Linked DNA regions of Homo sapiens. The protein of the gene in region 2 interacts with the protein of the main gene of each other region in a pairwise test. Each region holds a gene or a part of one and is shown on either strand. Other genes may lie near its edges.

The links. The genes of interacting proteins can lie anywhere in the genome.
Region 1: the proteins of TFF2 (region 2) and DNM2 interact in binary tests that used the Homo sapiens proteins (3 or more experiments, as listed by UniProt).

Annotation. Positions count from the first base shown.
Region 1 is NC_000019.10:10,770,079-10,773,578, reverse strand, and holds part of DNM2 (dynamin-2), read right to left. Parts: intron 1,101-3,500; coding exon 951-1,100; intron 1-950. UniProt on the Homo sapiens protein: Catalyzes the hydrolysis of GTP and utilizes this energy to mediate vesicle scission at plasma membrane during endocytosis and filament remodeling at many actin structures during organization of the actin cytoskeleton.
Region 2 is NC_000021.9:42,348,195-42,352,148, forward strand, and holds the start of TFF2 (trefoil factor 2 precursor), read right to left. Parts: upstream 2,801-3,954; 5' UTR 2,764-2,800; coding exon 2,685-2,763; intron 1,837-2,684; coding exon 1,687-1,836; intron 1-1,686. UniProt on the Homo sapiens protein: Inhibits gastrointestinal motility and gastric acid secretion. Could function as a structural component of gastric mucus, possibly by stabilizing glycoproteins in the mucus gel through interactions with carbohydrate side chains.

The sequences.
Region 1 (3,500 bases), on a different chromosome or scaffold from region 2:
TACTCGGGAGGCTGAGGCCAGAGAATTGCTTGAACCCGGGAGGTGAAGGTTGCATTGAGTGGAGATTGCGCCACTACACTCCAGCCTGGGCAACAGAGCGAGACTCTGTCTCAAAAAAAAAAAAAAAAATTTGGCCGGGCGCGGCGGCTCACGTCTGTAATCCCAGCATTTTGGGAGGCCAAAGTGGGCAGATCACAAGGTCGGGAGTTTGAGACAAGCCTGGCCAATATGGTGAAATCCCATCTCTACTAAAAATACAAAAAATTTGCCAGGCGTGGCGGCAGTTGCCTCTAGTCCTAGCTACTTGGGAGGCTGAGGCAGGAGAATAGCTTGAACCTGGGAGGCGGAGACTGCAGTGAGCTGAGATCACACCACTGTACTCCAGTCTGGGCGACAGAGCGAGACTCCATCTCAAAAAAAAAAAAAAAAAAATTAGCTGGGTGTAGTGGTGCATGCCTGTAATCCCAGCTACTTGGGCGGCTGAGGCACAATAATTGCTTGAACCTGGGAGGTGGAGGTTGCAGCGAGCAGAGATCACACCACTGAACCCCAGACTGGGCAACAGAGCAAGACTCTGTCTCAAAAAAAAAAAAAAAAAACCCAGGATATTTTACAGAAGACTGGTTCTGGCCTCTCTTGAGGCACCAGCAGATCTGGCTGCCTTGAGCCAAGTGGTGGCTGCCCTTGGTAAAAGGGGGAAATGGCTGCAATCCCCCACCACTCCAAACAACTTCTTGGCATGCTCTTTCTTCAAGCTGAGACAGAGGTCTGGGTACTACATACCTAGCACAAGTGGGAAGATACAGATCAAGGGGCTATGTGTGTGTGAATATCAACTGTTTGTGAATGGGCACATGATACCCATGAGTGGAAGTACACAGGCTCACCCATAGCACTGTCCATGAACGACCAGAAACGGTCAGTGATGGGTCCCCACCCGTGCTGCCTACCGTGTGGCGAGTAGACTCGAAGGTTGATGGGCACTGGGGAGATGCCTTTGTTGGTCCCCGTGACCCTGTCGGTCTCTGCTTCAATCTCCTGCCGGACTTCATCAAAGTCTGTAAACTTTTTGGACTTGCAGTGCAAAAACTCGGCATGTTCTAGAAAGGGAAGAGAGATGCTGAAAATGAGAAAGAGCTGTGGGCAGGGTGCGCATGGACTGCGGGGAGAAATGCTTTGTTGAATGAAAGTAATGACCCAGGCTGGGCACAGTAGCTCACGCCTGTAATCCCAGCACTTTGGGAGGCAGAGGTGGGCAGATCACAAGGTCAGGAGATTCAGACCATCCTCACTAACATGGTGAAACCCTGTCTCTACTAAAAATACAAAAAATTAGCCTGGCATGGTGGCACATGCCTGTAGTCTCAGCTACTCAGGAGGCTGAGGCAGGATAATTGCTTGAACCCGGGAGGCGGAGGTTGTAGTGAGCCGAGATTGCGCCACTGCACTCTAGCCTGGGAGACAGAGAAGACTCCATCTCAAAAAAATAAAAAAATAAATAAAATAAAATAAAATAAAATAAAAAAGAAAATAATGACCCAATCATCGTCACTCTAGGAATTTGGGAGTGAAAGATTCGTTCTCATGACAAGGGTCTTGGGGGAGGCGGGGGTTCCTATAGACTGAATAGACTGAGCCTCTTTCCAGATCCTGAAGATTACGTTCCCATGTGGCACTTTGCAAACTGTTAATATACGTCATGACATATTATGAATCCCCCTCCCCCAAAAATAAACAGGTAGACATAACCAATGACCAAAGTTTCTGGGATTACAGGCATATGCCTCCACGCCCAGCCATTTATTTGTTGATTGACTGATGAACAGAAGAGGAAGCACCAGGATACATCACCCAGAGAGGGTGAGTCCATTTGATTAAGGTGATGCTGCAGAGCCTCCCTTGCTGTGGGTCCCAGTCAAGGGAGTTCGATGCCCAAGTCCTTGTGGATTCATGGTCCACCAGCACATTCCAGCTCCACAAAATCCCCAGGGGTATTTCTCATGGCACTCACTTGTCCTTCTTCCCCAAGGAGCCCACAAGGTAGAGGGAAGGGGCACCCCTGCCGCCTCCTCAGAGCTGGTCTTGAGTCTTTCTTTCTCCCCCTGACTATTCAAGAGGGCCCCCTACCTAGAGACAAATCCCCCAGGAGAAATGTTTTCTGGGTATAACCCTGAGTGTATATAAGACCCGGGGGTATCTGAAAGTCACAGCAAGACTGGGATGAAGGGGAACAAAATAAGTAATTGACAAGCAGTGTGGGTCCCACCAGGAAACAAGAGAAATCCAGTCCCGAATCACAGATTGAGGACAAAGCAAATATAAGGCATGTTCATCACGGAAGGTGGCTGCCGAGTACACAGGTGTCCACTGTACAAAGCCTTGACGTTTCCAGATGTTCGAATTTTCAGAGTAAAATGTTGGGGAGGGGATATCCCCAAAGCTCAGAGATCACAGCTACTGTAGTGATGCTAAAAATAAGGGGGAAATGGCTGGGCACAGTGGCTCACGCCTATTATCCAGCACTGTGGGACGCCGAGGAGGGTGGATCACTTGAGCCCAGGAGTTCAAGACCGGCCTGGGTGACACAGTGAGACCCCGTCTCTACAGAAATTTAAAAAATTAGCCAGGCATGTTGGCGCACACCTGTAGTTCCAGCTACTTGGGAGGCTGATATGGTCTGGCTCTGTGTCCCCACCCAAATCTCATCTTGTAGCTCCCATAATTCCCTTGTGTTGTAGCAGGGACCCAGTGGGAGATCAATGAATCATGGGGGTGGGTCTTTCCCGTGCTATTCTCGTGATAGAGAATAAGTCTCACGAGATCTGATGGTTTTAAAAACAGGAGTTTCCCTGCAGAAGCTCTCTCACTCTCTTTGCCAGCTGCCATCCGTATAAGATGTGACTTGCTCCTCCTTGCCTTCTGCCATGATTGTGGGGCTTCCCCAGCCCAGCTGTGTGGAACTGTAACTCCATTAAACCTCTTTCTTTTGTAAATTGCCCGGTCTCAAATACGTCTTTATCAGCAGCATGAAAATGGATTAATATCGGCTGAAGTGGGAGGATCATTTGAGCCAGGAGCTGGAGGTTGCAGTGAGCTATGATCTATGATCACACCACTGCATTCCAGCCTGGCGACAGAGCAAGACACTGTCTCAAAAAGAAAAACAAAGAAAGAAAGGGGTAATAAGTCACACTGGCAAAGAGGTCAGAGACCTGACCCACCCCGGAGATGCGAAGATGCGCACTGCCCTGTCGTTTTTAAGAGTAAAAAAATGAAAATGGCCTCAACGTCCACCAGGAGGAGACCTGGCGACGTGAATAACACAGCCATGCCATAAACTGCCTCAAGCAAAGGCAAAAAGGGAGATGAACACCCAGCCAGGTCTAGAATCTTCAAGGCAGAAAGAAGAGTGTGAGGAGTTTCACCGTCCCATCATGGCAACCGAAGAAACTACGGCACTCTGGCCAGGCCCTGCGTGTGGTCCCGTTGCGCCTCACAAG
Region 2 (3,954 bases):
GCACACAGGTGCACGACACACACACAACCTTCCTTTGAGCACTCGTCGGCGTTACAACTTGGGTCCTGATCCCGTGCACTAACATAAAACTCACTCCCAAAGAACCCTAGAAGGCTTCACTTCCTTCCCTAACATTTGAGGGCTGTCAGCCCTTATGTTACTGCTGTCCTATTAAATACCTTCATTTCCCCATGGAAGCTTCTTCAGAAGTCACACTTCAAAAACTAGAGGAGACCTACTATATATATATATATTTTTTTCTCAACTAAAGTAAAACTGATGGCTCCACACACACATGTCTGTTGAAAGAACTAACAGTGTAGAAACAGGGTAGGTGGGAAATTTTCATCTCACTGTTGGCTGACCTGGGTTACCTCTAGACTAACAGTCCAGGCTGGCCCCAGGCTAACCAACCTGGGCTACCTCTAGACTAGCAGTCCAGACTAGTCCCAGACTAACCAATCTGGGCTACCTCTAGACTAACAGTCCAGGCTAGTCCCAGACTAACCAACCTGGGCTACCTCTAGACTAACAGTCCAGACTAGTCCCAGACTAACCAACCTAACCAACCTGGGCTACCTCTAGACTAACAGTCCAGGCTAGTACCAGACTAAACAACCTGGGCTACCTCTAGACTAGCAGTCCAGGCTAGTCTAAGACTAACCAACATGGGCTAGCCCCAGACTAACCAACCTGGGCTAGCCCTAGACTACCTCTAGACTAGCAGTCCTCTAGGCTACCTCTAGACTAGCAGTCCAGGCTAGTCCCAGACTAACCAACCTGGGCTAGCTCCAGACTAAACAACCTGGGCTAGCTCCAGACTAACAAACCTGGGCTAGCCCCAGACTAACCAACCTGGGCTACTAGCCTCAGACTAACCAACCTGGGCTAGCTCCAGACTAACCAACCTGGGCTAGCTCCGATTAACCAACCTGGGCTAGCCCTAGACTAACCAGCCTACGCTAGCCCTAGACTAACCAACCTGGGCTAGCTCCAGACTAACAAACCTAGGCTACTAGCCCCAGACTAACCAGCCTATGCTAGCCCTAGACTAACCAACTTGGGCTAGCTCCAGACTAACCAACCTAGGCTACTAGCCCCAGACTAATCAACCTGTGCTAGCTCCAAACTAACTAACCTGGGCTAGCCCTAGACTAACTAGCCTACACTAGCCCTAGACTAACCAACCTGGGCTAGCCCCAGACTAACCAACCTGGGCTACTAGCCCCAGACTAACCAACCTGGGCTAGCTCCAGACTAACCAACCTGGGCTAGCCCCAGACTAACCAGCCTACGCTAGCCCTAGACTAACCAACCTGGGCTAGCTCCAGGCTAACCAACCTGGGCTACTAGCCCCAGACTAACCAACCTGCGCTAGCTCCAAACTAACCAACCTGGGCTAGCCTTAGACTAACTAGCCTACACTAGCCCTAGACTAACCAACCTGGGCTAGCCCCAGACTAACCAACCTGGGCTAGCCCCAGACTAACCAACCTGGGCTAGCTCTAGACTAACCAACCTGGGCTAGCCCCAGACTAACCAACCGGGGCTAGCTCGAGACTAACCCACCCAGGCTAACCCTAGACTAGCAACTGGGCCTCCTCCGGCCCCTGCTCTGGGCTCCGCCTGTGAAGCTGGGTCCTGGGTTGCCAGCTGCTGGCCCAGGAAGATTCCCTGGAAGATTACCTTGCTTTGGGAGGGGGTGGAAACACCAGGGGACCCCAGTGACACTGGAGTCGAAACAGCATCCATTGTCAAAACACTGGTCACTGGTGATTCCAGGGAAGCCGCAGTTCGTCCTGTTATGGGGGCTCAGCCTGGAGCACTGGCAGGGGGCTGTGGAAAGACCCTCAGTCGGCCCCACCCTGGTACCCCAGACCACACTGCTCCTTCTCTCAGAGGTTCTAGGGGATGCCTCTACTGTCTTGTTGCCACATAGAGAAACACAAAGTCTTATCTTGCCCATATTTAAGCAATGCGGTTTCCTCCTGAGAAGCCGATAGGGCTTTGCTGAAATTGTTATATTAGTTTAAAAGGAAAAAAAAAAAAAAGCCAGGCATGGTGGCTCATACCTATAATCCCAGCACTTTAGGAAGCCGAGGCGGGCAGATTGCTTGAGCTCAGGAGTTCAAGACCATCCTGGGCAACATGTCGAAACCCCATCTCTACAAACAATACAAAAAAAAAAATTGGCCGGGCATGATGGTCCACAACTGTGGTTTCAGCTACTCAGGCGGCTGAGGTGGGAGGATCACTTGAGCCTGGGAGGCAGAGGTTGCAGTGAGCCAAGATCACACCACTGCACTCCTGCCTGGGCGGCAAAGCCAGATCCTGTCTCGGAAAAAAACAAAAACAAAACCCTCCTAGAGGAGGGTGAACAGATGGACCCAAGGCCAAGATCCAGGCGAGAGGTGAGTGCTCTGGGACTCCAAGGACCCTTGGTGGGAATGCCCTCCTGGCCCGACACGGGGCCCGCTGACACCTGCCGTCACTCAGCCTTTCCCTAGGAGGGAGGCCCTTCTTGGAGCCACCCTCCTGAGCAGTGGCAAATCCCATGTGAACAACACACATTGCCAGATGCCTTTATAGCCATTCCCCCTCTCAAGTTAATTTATGGTTGTGCTTTTTTTTTTTCTTTAAGAGAAATAAAGAAAGCACATAAAAAGACCCTCTCCTTCACTTACAGGGTTTCTCACTCCCCGCCAGGGCACATAGCCCCAGGACGAGGAGCGCTGCCAGGAGCTGGGCGTCTCGCCGTCCCATGTCTAGCTCAGCTGCACCCCAGGGTGGCTTGCAGAATGCATGGTGTCCACTGCCGGGTATGTTTTATAATCTCCCCTCTGTTTGTCCAACAAGCAGAGATAACCTTTCTTCTCTGCCCCGTGGCCCCAGCCCTTCCACCGTGGAGGCGAAGAGGAGGCAAGAGGCAGCTGTGCCCTGTGCAGGCGAGGCTTCCGGGCCAGGGTGACTCTCTCCCTGCTCGGTGATACCTCTTCCTGCCCTGGACAGAGAGTTGGGTCATGCCAGGCTGCCAGCGTGGAAAACCGGCCACGTGCAGGTCTGGGGCTGGGCACACACAGGGTCACACCCAGGAAGGGATAAGCTATGCATTTCTATTGATAGAGTGGGCAGGGACCACAGGAATTTAGAAAATATTAGGGCCAAGTTTACTGGGGAAAATGTACAGGCCAGCAGATAGCATGGAAAAGTCCCCTCCCTGAGGAAGGGAAGCATCTCAGAGGAGGTAAGAGACTGCTCCCAGGGCTGTGGTTAGAGCCTCCCCAACCGCAGCACGATGCCCTTTGTCCCATCTTCAGCAGGAGGGGCTGCTCTCCATGGAGATGAGGCTGACAGGGTCAGCGGAGTAGCCTGTGACAGGCAGGTTTTAATAAGTTCATTTTCAGCCAACCCCTGAAATGGGTTATTTTTGTTCCATGGGAATGCTCTACATCTTCTGAAAGATGGCACCTGGGACCCAGCCCATGGCCTTCCTGGGGTAGGATGTGCTGGAGAAGGATTCTGTGGACCTGACAGAGAAGACAGAAGCCAGAGAGTAGACACCCGGAAAGAAAGAGGGAAAAGTGTGGTGGGAAGGACAGAGGGGACCCGAAGTTCCCCACGCCAGGGAAATGACAGGGGGTTGCCAGTCTGTTTCTGATGGTTGAGCAGTCAGGGGCCCAGAGACGCAGGAAACCCAAAATCCTTGGTCCACCACGGGGCTGTCCTCAGGGTCTGGAGAGCAGGCCCCATACTCCAGGCCCCCATCCTCCAGGCCCTCGTCCCCCAGGCTCCATCCTCCAGGCCCCCATTCTCCAGGGCTCCATCCTCTAGGCCCCTGTCCTCCAGGCCCCCATCCTCTAGGCCCTCATCCTCCAGGCTCCATCCTCCAGGCTCCATCCTCCAGGTTTCATCCTTCAGGCCATCATCCTCCAGGCCCCCGTCCTCCAGGCCCCC